2 linked regions of the Homo sapiens genome follow. The protein of the gene in region 1 binds, or shares a complex with, the protein of each later gene. Links are inferred from orthologs where the notes say so. Each region holds a gene or a part of one and is shown on either strand. Other genes may lie near its edges.

The links.
Region 2: the proteins of BRME1 (region 1) and HSF2BP are in contact, whole or in part, in a crystal structure (PDB 7Z8Z), measured with the Mus musculus proteins. The link is inferred for Homo sapiens from one-to-one orthologs. Residues at the interface, in NP_083321.2 of Mus musculus: Met541, Gln542, Asp543, Ala544, Thr545, Val548, Arg549, Leu551, Val552, Leu555, Ser556, Asn559, Ile562, Met563, Thr565, His566, Leu569, Lys573; in NP_083178.1 of Mus musculus: Glu23, Phe24, Val25, Lys26, Val27, Arg28, Asp31, Leu32, Arg34, Leu35, Glu38, Val39, Gln41, Ile42, Phe45, Leu46, Arg48, Ile49, Glu53, Leu54.

The regions. Positions count from the first base shown.
Region 1 is NC_000019.10:13,896,107-13,903,129, forward strand, and holds part of BRME1 (break repair meiotic recombinase recruitment factor 1), read right to left. Parts: intron 1-7,023. UniProt on the Homo sapiens protein: Meiotic recombination factor component of recombination bridges involved in meiotic double-strand break repair.
Region 2 is NC_000021.9:43,656,489-43,664,028, reverse strand, and holds the start of HSF2BP (heat shock factor 2-binding protein), read left to right. Parts: upstream 1-4,540; 5' UTR 4,541-4,643; exon of another isoform or gene 4,644-5,708; 5' UTR 5,709-5,932; coding exon 5,933-5,968; intron 5,969-7,291; coding exon 7,292-7,442; intron 7,443-7,540. Other genes in the region: RRP1B (ribosomal RNA processing protein 1 homolog B), read right to left, coding at 4,235-4,364. UniProt on the Homo sapiens protein: Meiotic recombination factor component of recombination bridges involved in meiotic double-strand break repair.

The DNA of each region.
Region 1 (7,023 bases):
TGAAAATACAAAAATTAGCCGGGCATGGTGGCACCCACCTATAGTCCCAGCTACTTGGGAGGCTGAGGCAGGAGAATCGCTTGAACCTGGTAGGCGGAAGTTGCAGTGAGCTGAGATTGCGCTACTGCACTCCAGCCTGGTTGACAGAGCGAGACTCTGTCTCAAAAAAAAATTAATATATATTATATATCATATATAAAATACATACATATTCATATTTAATATATACATACATATAAAATATATAATTATAATGTATTTACATATTGCATATTTATAATTATAAAATATATTATTTAAATTATATATTTATGATATATTAATATATTATAAACATTATATCCTTGTATTATATTATATATTTATATATGATATATATTTATTAAATATATACTATATATATTATATATCCCATTATATTGCCAGGTTGTTCCATGTGATCTAAAGCCAGGCCACGCCACCTCAGGATTCAGCCTCAGCCAAATATGTAAATATATATATTTATACATATGTATTTATACATACATATGTATTTATACATACGTATTTACATATATGTATTTATGTATTATATATACTATATATATATTTTTTCTTTTTTTAAGACAGGGTCTGGCTTTGTCTCCCAGGCTAGAGTGAGGTGGTGCAACTGTGGATCACTGCAGTCTTGACCTCATAGGCTCAAGCCATCCTCCCACCTCAGGCCACTCAAGTAGCTGGGACAAAAGGTGTGTGCCACCATGCCTGGCTAAGTTTTCTTTTGCTTTTGTTTTGTTGAGACAGGGTCTCATATGTTGCCCAGGCTGGTCGTGAACTCTGGCGCTCAAGTGATCCTCTTGTCTCGGCCTCCCAAAGTGCTGGAATTACAGGCATGAACCACTTTGCCTCGCCAGAATCTATCTTTTGAATTAAGAAAACTCCCTTACATCGAAACTTTTTTTTTTTTTTTTTGAGACAGAGTCTCGCTCTGTCACCAGGCTGGAGTGCAATGGCACGATCTCTGCTCACCGCAACCTCTGCCTCCCGGGTTCAAGTGATTCTCCTGCCTCAGCCTCCTGAGTAGCTGAGACCACAGGCACGCACCACCACACCCAGCTAATTTTTGTATTTTTAGTAGAGACAGGGTTTCACCATGTTGGCCAGGATGGTCTCGATCTCTTGACCTCATGATCCGCCCGCCTCGGCCTCCCAAAGTGCTGGGATTACAGACATGAGCCACCGTGCCCAGCCACATCAAAACTTTCAATAGTGGCTGGCTTGTAAGACTTCCCCAAGCCTGGCCCCAACCTAATCATGCATTCAGTGAACAAATGATAAGGGTTGACTCTAGTGAGTTCCACACCAGATGCTGTCCTAAGAACTTGTGTGTGTTAAGATAAAAGCTCAAGGCAGGGTGCTGCTGTTATGCCTGCCTTACAGAAGTACCTTGAGCAATTCAATATTATCTTTGTCCATGATTAAAATATTGGCCTTTGCCACCAGCAAGGAAAGATGCCAGCCTGTAATCCCAGGACTTTGGGAGGCCGAGGCAGGTGGATTGCTTAAGCTCAGCAGTTCAAGACCAGCCTGGGCAACATGGCGAAACCCTGTCTAAAAAGTACGAAAATTAGCCAAACATGGTGGTGCATGCCTGCAGTCCCACATACTTGGGAGGCTGAAGGGGGAGGATGACTTGAGCCCAGAGGAAGAGATTGCAATGAGTCCAGACTGTGCCACTGCACTCCAGCCTGGGCAACAGAACTAGAGCCTGTCTCAAAAAAACATTTAAATTAAACATTTAAATTAAAATAAATAAATAAAAGGGCAATATGGCAAAACCCCATCTCTACTAAAAATGCAAAAGTTAGCTGGGCATGGTGGTGGGCACCTGTAATCCCAGCTACTTGGGAGGCTGAGGCAGGAGAATCGCTTGAATCCGGGGGGCTGAGGTTGCAATGAGCCAAGATGGCGCCACTGCACTCCAGCCTGGGCAAGGGAGTGAGATTCCATCTCAAAAAAATAAATAATTAAATTAAATTAAAAGGAAAGGAAAGATGCGAGAATTGACACCCAAGGGCCCCAAGTTCCCAGAGAGGTGAAAACGTTAAGGCACACAGAGGCCCAGGAACCAAGGCTGGCACCCCGTCCAACTCCAGAACCAGCACACTTAAGAATACTTGAGCATTTACTGAATGCCTACTATGTAGTAGATTTCTGCCAAGGCAGGCAGAACAAAAAGACAAACCAACAGCCAGGTGTGGTGGTGCACACCTGCAGTCCCAGCTACTCAGGAGGCTGAGGGGGTAGGATCACTTGAGTCCAGGATCTCACTTGGGTAACACAGTGAGATCCCACCTCTATAAAACATTTAAAAATTAGCTGAGGGTGGTGGCATGCACCTGTAGTCTCAGCTACTCAGGAGGCTGAGGCAGGAGGATTGCTTGAGCCCTGGAGGTTGAAGCTGCAGCAAGCCGTGATTGTGCCACTGCACTCTGGCCTCAGCAACAGAGCTAGATCCTATCTCTAAAAAAAACACTAAAGAATAACACTATCCAGGACCAGGCGCAGTGGTTCATGCCTGTAATCCCAGCACTTTGGGAGGCTGAGGCGGGCGGATCCCCTGAGGTCGGGAGTTTAAGACCAGCCTGACCAACATGGAGAAACCCTGTCTCTACTAAAAATACAAAATTAGCCGGGCATGGTGGCTCATGCCTGTAATCTCAGCTACTCAGGAGGCTGAGGCAGGAGAATCGCTTGAACCCGGGAGGCGGAGGTTGCAGTGAGCCGATATCGCGTCATTGCACTCCAGCCTGGGCAACAAGAGTGAAACTCCATCTCAAAAAAAAAAAAAAAAAAAAAAGAATAACACTATCCAAACCCCAGATGGACTCTTTCCAACCTCAGCTCTACATTACACACTTACACATCGTGAAGTAAACCTACTGAATGAGTCTCTCTTTCCTCGACGCCAATTGCTAGGGTCTGCATCAGTCCCCATTCAGCTGTTTGCCCTCCACTAAACCACAGCAATCTTCCTGTAATTGCTTCTAATTCTTCTTCTTCTTCTTTTTTTTTTTTTTTGAGATGGACTCTCGCTCTGTTGCCCAGGCTAGAGTACAGTGGCATGATCTCAGCTCACTGTAACCTCTGCCTCCTGGGTTCAAGCAATTCTCCTGCCTCAGCCTCCTGATTGGCTGCGACTACAGGTGCAAGCCACCATGCCTGGTTAATTTTTTTGTATTTTCAGTAGAGACGGGTTTTCACCACGTTGGCCACACTGGTTTTGAACTCCTGATCTCAAGTGATCTGTCTGCCTTGGCCTCCCAAAGTGCTGGGAATGCAGGTGTGAGCCATGGCGCACGGTAAGTTGCTTGTAATTCTGTCAGTTACAGTTCGGGAGTGCCCGTTTAGAACTTTATCCCACTGCTGTGTATTTGCTTAGCTCTCGCTGAGAGAAGCATTTTCCTTTGTCCTCTGACTACAGCTGGAGGATCTCCAGGGCAGGAACTGAGTGCAATGCACCCTTTGATCTCCCCTTCGCCCTGCCCTGCCCCATCAGGTGCCCACCTCAAAGGATGTACCACCACAAGTAAAGCTCCGATGGACATTGCTTATAGAAACACATTCCTAACCGTCCGGGTGCAGTGGCTCATGCCTGTAATCTCACCACGTTGAGAGGGTGAGGTGGGCAGATTGCTTGAGGTCAGGAGTTCAAGACCAGCCTGGCCAACATGGTGAAACCCTGTCTCTACTACAAATACAAAAAATTAGCCAGGTGTGGTGGTGGGCACCTGTAGTCCCAGCTAATCAGGAGGCTGAGGCAGGAGAATCACTTGAACCCAGGCGGCGGAGGTTGCAGTAAGCCAAGACTGCACCACTGCACTCCAGCCTGGGTGACAGAGCAAGACTCTGTCTCAAAAGAAACACGACCTTGTGGTCTGCCAGAAAAGACAAAATATAGCTGCTTTGTTTATTTGGTTTCTTGAGATTCTCAAACACTTGCTCACTTGGCTGACTGAATGGCCATTTGTACCAAATAAAAAGCAAAAAAATATCAATGGCATTGAAGAGTCTTCTCTTTCCTTCCTGTGATCTGTCCACATGGGACTAATTTAAGAAAAAATAAGGCAGAACCTTGTGTTCGACACCAAAGACTAAAGACATTGGGAGGGAAAAGGCCTCTTTCACCACCTGCCAGAATTTTCTTCCTCTCTCTCCACCCTTCCAGCACACACAGAAAGGGTTGTCCAGGGCCAGCCCAGAGGTCCACTGAGCTGGGGAGTCTACCGCCAACAGAGGCCCCAAGTGACCTGCTGTGGGTGGACCTGGCTGTCCCCAGCTTCCCCCTCCAAGGTCAGAGAAATTCTGATGCCTCCAAGCAGCCTGTTGCTCATCTCTGCACAAAACATGTTCAATCTGCTGATCATTTCCTCTCCTGTCCCATATCTTGGGGGAAAAAACATGCACACCATTCCCTAAATTCATCAGCCACTAAATTAAAAAGTCATTTCAAAATTTTGAAGAAATTTAACTTACTTTAGAAAATGATAGGCAAATGGAACTCTACTACATCATATTGGGAGTTTGTCTTTCTGACTTGGTTTGTTCCTTTTTTTTTTTAGACAGAGTCTCACTCTGTCGCCCAGGCTGGAGTGCAGTGGTGCAATCTCAGCTCTCCTGGGCTCAAGCGAGTCTCGTGTCTCAGCCTCCCAAGTAGCTGGGATTACAGACACATGCCACCATGCCCGGCTAATTTTTGTGTTTTTAGTACAGATGGGGTTTCACCATGTTGACCAGGTTGGTCTCGAACCCTGACCTCAAATGATCCATCCACCTGCCTCGGCCTCCCAAAGTGCTCAGATTACAGGCATGAGCCATCGTGCCCAACAATCTTTCTTTTTTTCTAAGAGACAGGGTTTTGTTCTGTGGCCCAGGCTGGAGTGCAGGCGCAATCATAGCTCACTGCAGCCTGGAACTCCTCAGCTCAAGCCATCCTCCTGCCTCAATCTCCCAAGTAGCCAGGACTACAGGTAGGCACCACCACACTGGTTAATTAAAATTTTTTTTTTTTTTTAGAGACTGGGTAACATTATGTTGCTCAGGCTGGTCATGAACTCCTGGTCTCAGGCAATCCTTTCACCTCGGCCTCCCAAGTAGCCTGGAGTACAGGTGCGTACCACCAAGCCTGGCTATTTTGGGGTGTTTTTCTTTTCAAATGATGAAATTGTATAGGTATGTTGACAAGTAAACATGGTCATGATCTACCACAAAGTGAAAAATGGAGGTTGCAGATCAGTAAGTGTGATGATTCGATTTTCCAATAAAAACATTTTATCTGGGCCAGGCACGGTGGCTCATGCCTGTAATCTTTGGGAGGCTGAGGCAGGCGGATAACTTGAAGTCAGGAGTTAGAGAGCAGCCTAGCCAACATGGTGAAACCCCGTCTCTACTAAAAATGCAAAAATTTGCCAGGCATGGTGGCAGGTACCTGTAATCCCAGCTACTCAGGAGGCTGAGGCATGAGCATCACTTGAACCCAGGAGGCAGAGGTTACAGTGAACCAAAATCGTGCCACTGCACTCCAGCCTGGGTGACAGAGTGAGACTGTCTCCAAAAAAAAAAAAAAGAAAAAAGCTCAACACTGTATCTGTATATATACAGAAAAAGTCTGACCAGGCATGGTGGCTCATGCCTGTAATTCTGAGCACATTGGGAGGCCAAGGCAGGTGGACTGCTGGAGCCCAGAAGTTCAAGACCAGCCTGGGCAACATAGTGAGGCCTCGTCTCTTCCAAAAAATACAAAAATTAGCCAGTCATGGTGGCACACACCTGTAGTCCCAGCTATTCCGGAGGCTGAGGTGGGAAGATCACCTGAGCCTGGGGAGGTCGAGGCTGCAGCGAGCTATGATTGTGCCACTGCTCTCCAGCCTGGGCGACAAAGCAAGACTCTGTCTCGAAAAAAAGAAAAAAAAAAAAGCTGGGTATGGTGGCTCACTCCAGTAATCCCAGCACTTTGGCTGAGGCGGGCAGATCATGTGAGGCCAGGAGTTCAAGATCAGCCTGGGCAACATGGTGAAACCCCATCTCTACTACAAATACAAAAATTATCTGAGCGTGGTGGCAGACACCTGTAATCCCAGCTACTCAGGAGGCTGATGCAAGAGAATCGCTTGAAACCAGGAGGCGGAGGCTGCAGTGAGTCAAGATCGTGCCACTGCACTCCAGTCTGGGCAACAGAGTGAGACATCATCTTAAAAAAAAGTCTGAGCTGGGCGCGCTGGCTCATGCCTGTAATCCCAGCACTTTGGGAGGCCGAGATGGGCGGATCACCTGAGGTTGGGAGTTCGAGACCAGCCTGACCAACATGGAGAAACCCCATCTCTACTAAAAATACAAAAAAATTAGCTGGGCATGGTGGCATATGCCTGTAATCTCAGTTACTTGGGAGGCTGAGGCAGGAGAATTGCTTGAATCTAGGAGGCAGAGGTTGCGGTGAGCCGAGATCGCGCCAGCCTGGGCAACAAGATCAAGACTCTGTCTCAAAAACAAAAACAAAAAAGTCTGGGCTGGGCGCGGTGGCCTACTCCTGTATCCCCAGCACTTTGGGACACCAAGACGGGCAGATCACCTGAGGTTGGGAGTTCAAGACCAGCCTGACCAAACCCTGACTCTACTAAAAAAATACAAAAATTAGCTCAGCATGGTGGTGGGTGCCTGTAATCCCAGCTACTTGGGAGGCTGAGGCAGGAGAATCGCCTGAACTTGGGAGGTGGAGGTTGCAGTAAGCCGAGATCGCGCCACTGCACTCCAGCCTGGGCAACAAGAGCGAAACTCCGTCTCAAAAAAAAAAAAAAAAGTCTAGAAGCAGTGTACCGAGGTTAGAGTCCTGTCCTGTTTTTCATGCTGTTCTACAGTTGATCACTGTCCTATGGCTATGCTAGATGTCAACATTAGGGAAAGCTTGGAGAAGGGTAGCTAGAACTCTCTGAATTATTTTTGCAACTTTTCTTTAAGTCCCAGATTACTTCAAAATAAAAGTTTTCT
Region 2 (7,540 bases), on another chromosome or scaffold:
TGAATTACTTTCAAAGCTCTGAAAGGCAAAGTACATTATCTGAAGCAGTTTGGTTTCATCAGTCTTGTCTTCTCTATTTTCTTCTTGGGGCTAAATTTCTTAAACTTAATACTACTGTTTTTACAACAATACAATATAGGTTTATTTATTTCAAAATGAATGAGGTAGGCCAGGTACAGTGGCTCACTTCTGTAATCCCAGCACTTTGGGAGACCGAGGTGGGCAGATCACCTGAGGTCAGGAGTTCAAGACCAGCCTGGCCATCATAGAGTGAAACCCTGTCTCTACTAAAAAAATACAAAAATTAGCTGGGCATGGTGGTGCATGCCTGTAGTCCCAGCTACTTGGGAAGCTGAGGCAGGATAATCGCTTGAACCTGGGAGGTGGAGGTTGCAGTGAGCCGAGATTGTGCCACTGCACTCCAGCCTGGGCGACAGAGCAAGTCTCTGTCTCTCAAAAAAACAAAAACAAAGGCTGGGCACGGTGTGGCTCACACCTGTAATCCCAGCACTTTGAGAGGCCTAGGCGGGCGGATCATGAGGTCAGGAGCTCAAGACCAGCCTGGCCAACATGGTGAAACACCGTCTCTACTAAAAACACAAAAATTAGCCAGGCGTGGTGGTGGGCGCTCGCTACTCGGGAGGGTGAGGCGGGAGAATTGCTTGAAACTGGAAGGTGGAGGTTGCAGTTAGCAGAGATCGCGCTGTTGCACTTCAGCCTGGGTGAAAGAGTGAAACTCTGTCTCAAAAAACAAAAACACACAAAACAAACGAGGTAAACATCAAAGTGAGACATGTAGACATGTGAAATATTAGTAAGTTTTGAAATGAGCAAATCCAACAGCCACTCTCACCACGCAATGAGCCCAGAAGCCATTTTAGATGGGGGTAAAGTGTTAAACTTGAACACACCCCAGTGTCAGAACATCCACAACTTCTATTTATTATAACTCTTGGATAGAGAGAACCCTAACCCCATCATTATAAAAAAACTTATATCCTCCATCATCTACACTGAATCTAATATAGCATCAACCATAAGATGTACTGTTATTTTGTATGCTGCCAAAAAGAAAGCAATGATACAAATGAAATTGTCACTGGGTTGATTTTGGGATGCCTCCCCATTTTAGTCAATATTTTTAAAGTTGCAGAACTGATAAGATAGGCAGGGATGGTCTGTTTTGTTCACTGCTATATTCCCAGTGCCAAGAATAGCGTACATAATAGTACACAGTTGGCACTCCATAAATGTTTGCTAAATATATGAATGAATGAATGAATTGGGACAAATAAGCTCTTATGGATGAAAGCCATGGAGAGTGATCATTTTATGACTGTGAGCACCCAACTTGAACAGTTAAAGCAAGAGCGCAACACTGTTACTTAAAGCAATACAAAGATTTCCAATTTATTTTTAAAATGACAAAGCTATCTATTGATGTTGCTGCAGAACAGCTCATGTTTCAGGAAGAGTGATAGCTCACATTTCCTTTATGATGCCTAAGACAAGATGCAGAAAAGTTGGAGCCTGTCATCGGGAGTCGAATGTCAGGCCAAGTTATTTCCAAACTTGTGCTGTAATTGTGATGGGGCATAGCTGTGGTGGAGACCTTGTGTTTTCTTGTCCCATTATCACTGTCCACGACGTTCATGCTGCGGAGTTATTTTCTGAAGGTCCACTGTACTCCATGCAATGTGGTGGTGAACAAGATATACAAGACAAGTCACTCTGGGTGTGATAGGCACTAACCAGACAGGACTCTGGAGCACTGGTGTAAACTGGTCTTAGGCCCCCGCATAACCTCTGCATTTGCAAATCCTGGGCTGGCTCACCAAAGGGTTTGAGCAAAAGGCTCTGTCTAGGCTGTCTTAGCACCGTAAGTATTGCCTCTGGTCTTCCACTCTTGTACAGGCCAAGACCTTTTACGGTTGCATGTACTCCCACTTCTGGCTAAGAAAACAGATGGAAGCTTACGGTGTTTCGGGAGAAGGATGACACATTGATAATTAAGAAGCAATGTAGCTAAGTGCTACAACAGAGACACAATGGATGTTTTAGAACCCTGGAGGAGTAGGGCAAGATGCTAGGCGAGGCTTTTTGAAGGAAGTGATACTGAACTGAATGCTGGCAGTGAAGAAGGTGTGGGATTCTTTGCAGAGTGAACAGGAGAAGCAAAGGCAGAGAGGTGAGAAATTGTGTGCTGTACACCAAGAACCATCACCGATTCTGTTGACGGAACATGAAGCAGTTACACGGGGCTTAGGCAGGAAGAGCACCTGAGGACAGATCATGACTTGCAGACACTGAATTTCAAAAAATATTGGTGATGTGGGATCAGATTTGTTTTAGGAAGATGACCCTGGGCTGGTCTGTGGAGGACAGATTCCTGGGGACACAAGTGAAGTTAAGGAGACCAGTTGGGGAATATGCGGGCGCAGAAGTTTCGGTGAGATACAAAGAGCCCACGGTCAAGAATTTATGTCATCAGGAGGTGAACGAGGGAGGACGGGGGTCCTCCCACTGGATGTGGGCCAGGGGAAGAGGATGAGGAATTCAGAGGAGTCCAGGACAATCCCGTGTGTCCGGCTGGAATCTGAATGGCTGGTGGGAACCAGCAACCAAAAGAAAAGAAAACAGGTGGCAGTGGAGCAGCAGCAGAGAACAGGATTTCGGGGAAAGAAAACAGAACTTTTTTTGGCATCCTGAGTGTGAGGTGCCAGGTAGAGAAGCCAGGCTAGCAAGGCACATCCGAGCTGCAAGTAGGAATGGGCTGGGACAACAATTTAGGTTTAGAAACCACCAGCATATATGGGGTACCTGGAACTGTGAGACTAAACAAAATCTCTTGGGGAGATTCTTAACAGAATCAAAGTCAGGAATTTTGGTCTTTATTCCTTTTTCTATCAGACTTCCCAGGAAAGTGTATTTTCTTTTTTTGGGTAGTCTGGTGATTTCTCTTAAAAATAAAACAAACTGAGAATGTCAGTGATGGGGGAGATAATATCTGTTCTTTTAAGCAGATTCTAAATGTATTAGTACCATCAGTAACTAAATAAAACTTTATCTTAAAACCTCTATTACACATTGTAGTTCATATTGTATGGGCTCACTCAAGAGTTTATAGAAAGTATTTTTGGATCAGGTAAATGAAATCATCCAACAGCAGTGCCGTTAAAATCTAAACTACAAAGCCCTGTGTGATCTGGCCACTGCCTACATCTCCAACTTCATCTCATAACACTCGCCCCCCCAACCCCAACTTATTGGTCTTTCAAACCACTCCTAGGGCACGTGAAGCTCTTTCCTGCCTCTGCATAGGCGGTTTCCGCTCATTTCTCTTCAGATCTGAGCTGATTATCAGCCCAGAGAGGCCTTCCCAGAACAGCCTATCAAGAAGAGCAACCTCCTTCCCTTTTTGCTATTATCTGGTTTTCTTTTTCCTTTTTTCTTTTCTTTTCTTTTTGAGACGGAGTTTCGCTCTTGTTGCCCAGGCCGGAGTGCAATGCTGCGATCTCGGCTCACCGCAACCTCCGCCTCCCAGGTTCAAGCGATTCTCCTGCCTCAGCCTCCCGAGTACTGAGATTACAGGCATGCGCCACCATGCCCGGCTAATTCTGTATTTTTAGTAGAGCCGGGGTTTCACCATGTTGGTCCGGCTGGTCTCGAACTCCCGACCTCAGGTGATCCGCCCGCCTCGGCTTCCCAGAGTGCTGGGATTACATGCGTGAGACACCGCGCCCGGCCTGCTACCTGGTTTTCATTTCCTTTACTACACTTACACAAGGTCTACTTTATTTGCCTGTTTGCCTCCTTGCTTTATTACTAATAGATCCTCGAGGGTAGTGATTTTGTCTGTCTTCTCTCCTGCAGCCCCGTCACGTAAAGGTGCTGGTCAAAGGAAGGCGGCAATCACCGACCGGACACCAGGGCAAATCAGGGCAGCCCAGTGATTCGAGATGCCGGCTGGGGAATCGGACCCATGTGGGTCTTTTCTCAGCTTCCCCGCTTACTGTGACTTTCATAAGTAACGGAACCCCCTCAACCCGTTTCCTTAAGTGTAAAAAGGCACTAGACACAGCAAGAAGCGGTTCCGGCAGCGCGGAAACCGAAGCACACGCTGGGTGTCACGACAACACGTGGAAGCCGCATTCCGTGCCGGGGCCCTGGCCCTAGCCCCAGCCCCGGCCCCCGGCCCGCCATGTGGCGCGGCTGACCGCGGCCGTGCGCCCACCTGTCTCCCTCTGCGTCTTCACGCTGATGTACTGGCGCAGCTTCTTCACCGCTCGGTCCCGGATGCCCTTCTCGCTGGACGCCAGCCGCTGGGCAAATTGGATCTCGGCCGGCTGCATGGCGGGGGCCATCGCGCCCGCTGGAGCATCCCCGGCCGCGCAACCCGCGGTGCCGCTGCAGCCAGCCGAGCGCTGCGGAGCAGCCAGCCACCGTCCGCCCGGGCCGCGACTGCACAGAAGGCGGCGGCGGCGGCGCGCGGGCTGATGGCGTCACAAAGGCGCCGCGGCTCGCAGCGCGCTCTGGGAGTGAGCGCGGCAGTGGCCCTGGCAGCTGGCGGAGCGGCCCAGCCCGTGTGCACGTGGCGCCGGCGCTGCCTTTCGGTTGCCAAAATTCAGGCTGTAGACGGCGAGGTTAGCCAGGGTTAGGACTTGACCAGGAAGAGACGGAAGGCTGTTTGTAAACGGTCTAGGATTTTTTGTTTGTTTTTGAGACAGGGTCTCCCTCTGTCGCCCAGGCTGGAATGCAGTGGCGCGATCTTGGCGGTGATCCTGGCTCACTGCAGCCTCGACCTCCCAGACTCGATCGATCCTCCCATCTCGACCGCCCAAGTAGCTGAGACTACAGGCGCGCGCCATCACGCCCCACTATTTGTTATTTTTTTGTAGAGACGGTGTCTCGCTATGTTGCCCAAGCTGGTCTCAAACTCCTGGGCTCAAGCAATCCTCCCGCGGCGGCCTCCCTGATCGCTGGGATTACAGGCTTGAGCCGCCGCGCCTGGCCACGGTCCAGGATCTTTAATCCCATTTAGCACACCTCGTTGAGCCAGCAGCTTACCTGCGATCTCCGTGGCGTGGAGTTTTTAACTGTGGAGCCCCCGGGCCCCCGGGTGGAGTTGAGACTGGAAGGAAAGGCCGGCACTGGGGCCTGTTGAGCGGGTGGAGGGCTCGCCTTCCTCCAGTGCCTGCAGAGGCTTGGGCAGATCGGTGCGCCCCTACCCCGGAGCCCTGGTGCCAGTGCAAGGGCGCCCGCGCAGGCGTCCCGAGGCCTGGCGAGCACGCGCGCTTCCAGGGGAGTTGGGCAGGGCGGGCTGCTTGCTAATTCCAGAGAGGGAAGAAATCTTAGCTTTGGGTTCATCTAAAACCCGAGGCCATCCTATATTTTGCGGACTCAGCGGGCGTGCTGGGGCAAGTTAATGGACTAGGTCACTCCACACGTAGCGGGGGTTATCTCAGTTGCTCCGCTCAGTTGTCTAGGCGACCTCCCGAGGTGCCTGTTGACACAAAAATTCAACCCTTAACGTAAAAGCGCCTGAATCCGAGCGAGGGAAGGCGCGCGGAGGCGAGGTTTCCAGCAAAGACTGCCCATTTGAACGCAGTCCCCCTTAGTGTAGCATTCCTCGCCAAACAGGAAAGGACCCATCCGATTTATTTTACTTGACACTTACATCAGGGGCTGACTTTCCTTCTGCTTTGCAGATAACAAGTTTAAAACCCCGGCTAAGCCAGAAGAGCCAAAGAGGGACCTCGCCAAGGCCACTCCTCGCTCTCTAGGCCGAGAATACTGCGCAAATTCTGGGAGGTTTGGGCCTGGCGGCTCTCCGTTCCCGACCCCCGGCGTGGATTCGTTCCCGCGCTTTCTGGCGTGAGGGGTCAGAGGGCGCGCCGACGCTCAGGCGAACGGAGCGGAGGCGGCAGCGGCCATGGGCGAAGCGGGCGCCGCTGAGGAGGCCTGCCGGGTTAGTGAGGAAGCCCTGGCCGACGCCAGCGTGTTTGAACCGTCGCCATTCGCTCCCCTCAGGGCCTCGCCCCGTGCGCTCGGAGACGGCTCGCTGTCGCGTGCTTGGGGGAAGCCTGGAGACTTCCTCCCCTAACGGCGTGGGCTGGGCCGGAGCGGGGTGGAGACCTGGGGCGGGAGGCGACTTCGCCTCCAAACCCACGCGGGGACCCGGTCTGTGAGGCTGCGCGTGGTGGGGGCACTCAGTGGCGCCAAAGCGGGCATGGGAGCGTGGGATGGATGGTCACTCTCTTCTCTGCTCCGTGGAAGCCCAGTTCCCCTCCGAAGGCCCTGGCCCCCTGCTTCGGGACTTAGCGTCAGGCTTAGAGAGAATCTGCCCTCCATCGATTTTATAACTGTAACTGATTGCATGCGATGGAGAAGGCGCTTGGACTGGGGCCAGATCCGTGTTCACATCCTGCTTCCACCCGTTATTAATTGTGCTGCATTGAGAGTCATCTAGCTCCCGTGCCTTAATTTCCATCTAGACAATCTTGGAGGCTTGGGGTGAATAGTAGATGAGATCACGGGCGGAGGGCTTGGCAAACCCAGTAGGAAACCAGATGACTTCCTTTTCCTCCTGATTAGTTTGGTGCTGCAGTGATAAAAAGTTGCAGGCGTTTTCTTTGACTTTTAGGAATAGAGCTCTTGTATGACTTTTCTTTTTCGTGGTCTTGCTCTGTTGCCCAGACTGGAGTGCAGTGGCACGATCATAGCTCACTGCAGCCTCCAACTCCTGAGCTCAAGCCTTCTTCCCGTGTCAGCCTGCTGCGTACAGGCGCCGGCCACCACACCTGGCTAATTTTTGTATTTTTAGTGAGATGGAGTTTCACCATACTGGTCAGGCTGGTCTTGAACTCCTGACCTCAGGTGATCCACCCGCCTCGGCCTCCCAAAGTGCTGGGATTACAGGCGTGAGCCACTGCGCCGGGCCTCCTGGGCACGTTTTCATATTTTTGTAGTGACAGGGTCTCTCCATGTTGCTCAGACTGGTCTTGAACTCCTGGCCTCCCAAATTCCTGGGATTTCAAGTGTGAGCCACCATGCCTGGCCTGTTTGTCCTTATTATTTTTAACATCTGGCTCCCTTTTTGAAGGCTGAAGCTTCAGCTTTCAAAATGTTTGTATGTACATAAAATATATCTATAGCAGAATATACAGTAGGTAGAGACATGATTTGAAACAACGATGCACATAAGAGGTGTGAAAGAAAAGCAAGTTAACTTGAGCTGTTGTTTTTTTTCTCATGTGAAGAGAAATATAATAAGATCTGCTTGTTCTTTTAGCACATGGGAACTAAAGAGGAATTTGTTAAAGTCAGAAAGAAGGATCTGGAACGGCTGACAACTGAAGTGATGCAAATACGGGACTTCTTACCCAGAATACTAAATGGGGAGGTGCTGGAGAGCTTCCAGAAATTAAAGATTGTAGAAAAAAGTGAGTCTTCATTTTCAGCAGTCATTGGTGGTAACAGTAATTTGTTCTAGCAGATTTACCCTAGGTAAATAATTGTAAACGAATTTTAAGGTACTCTT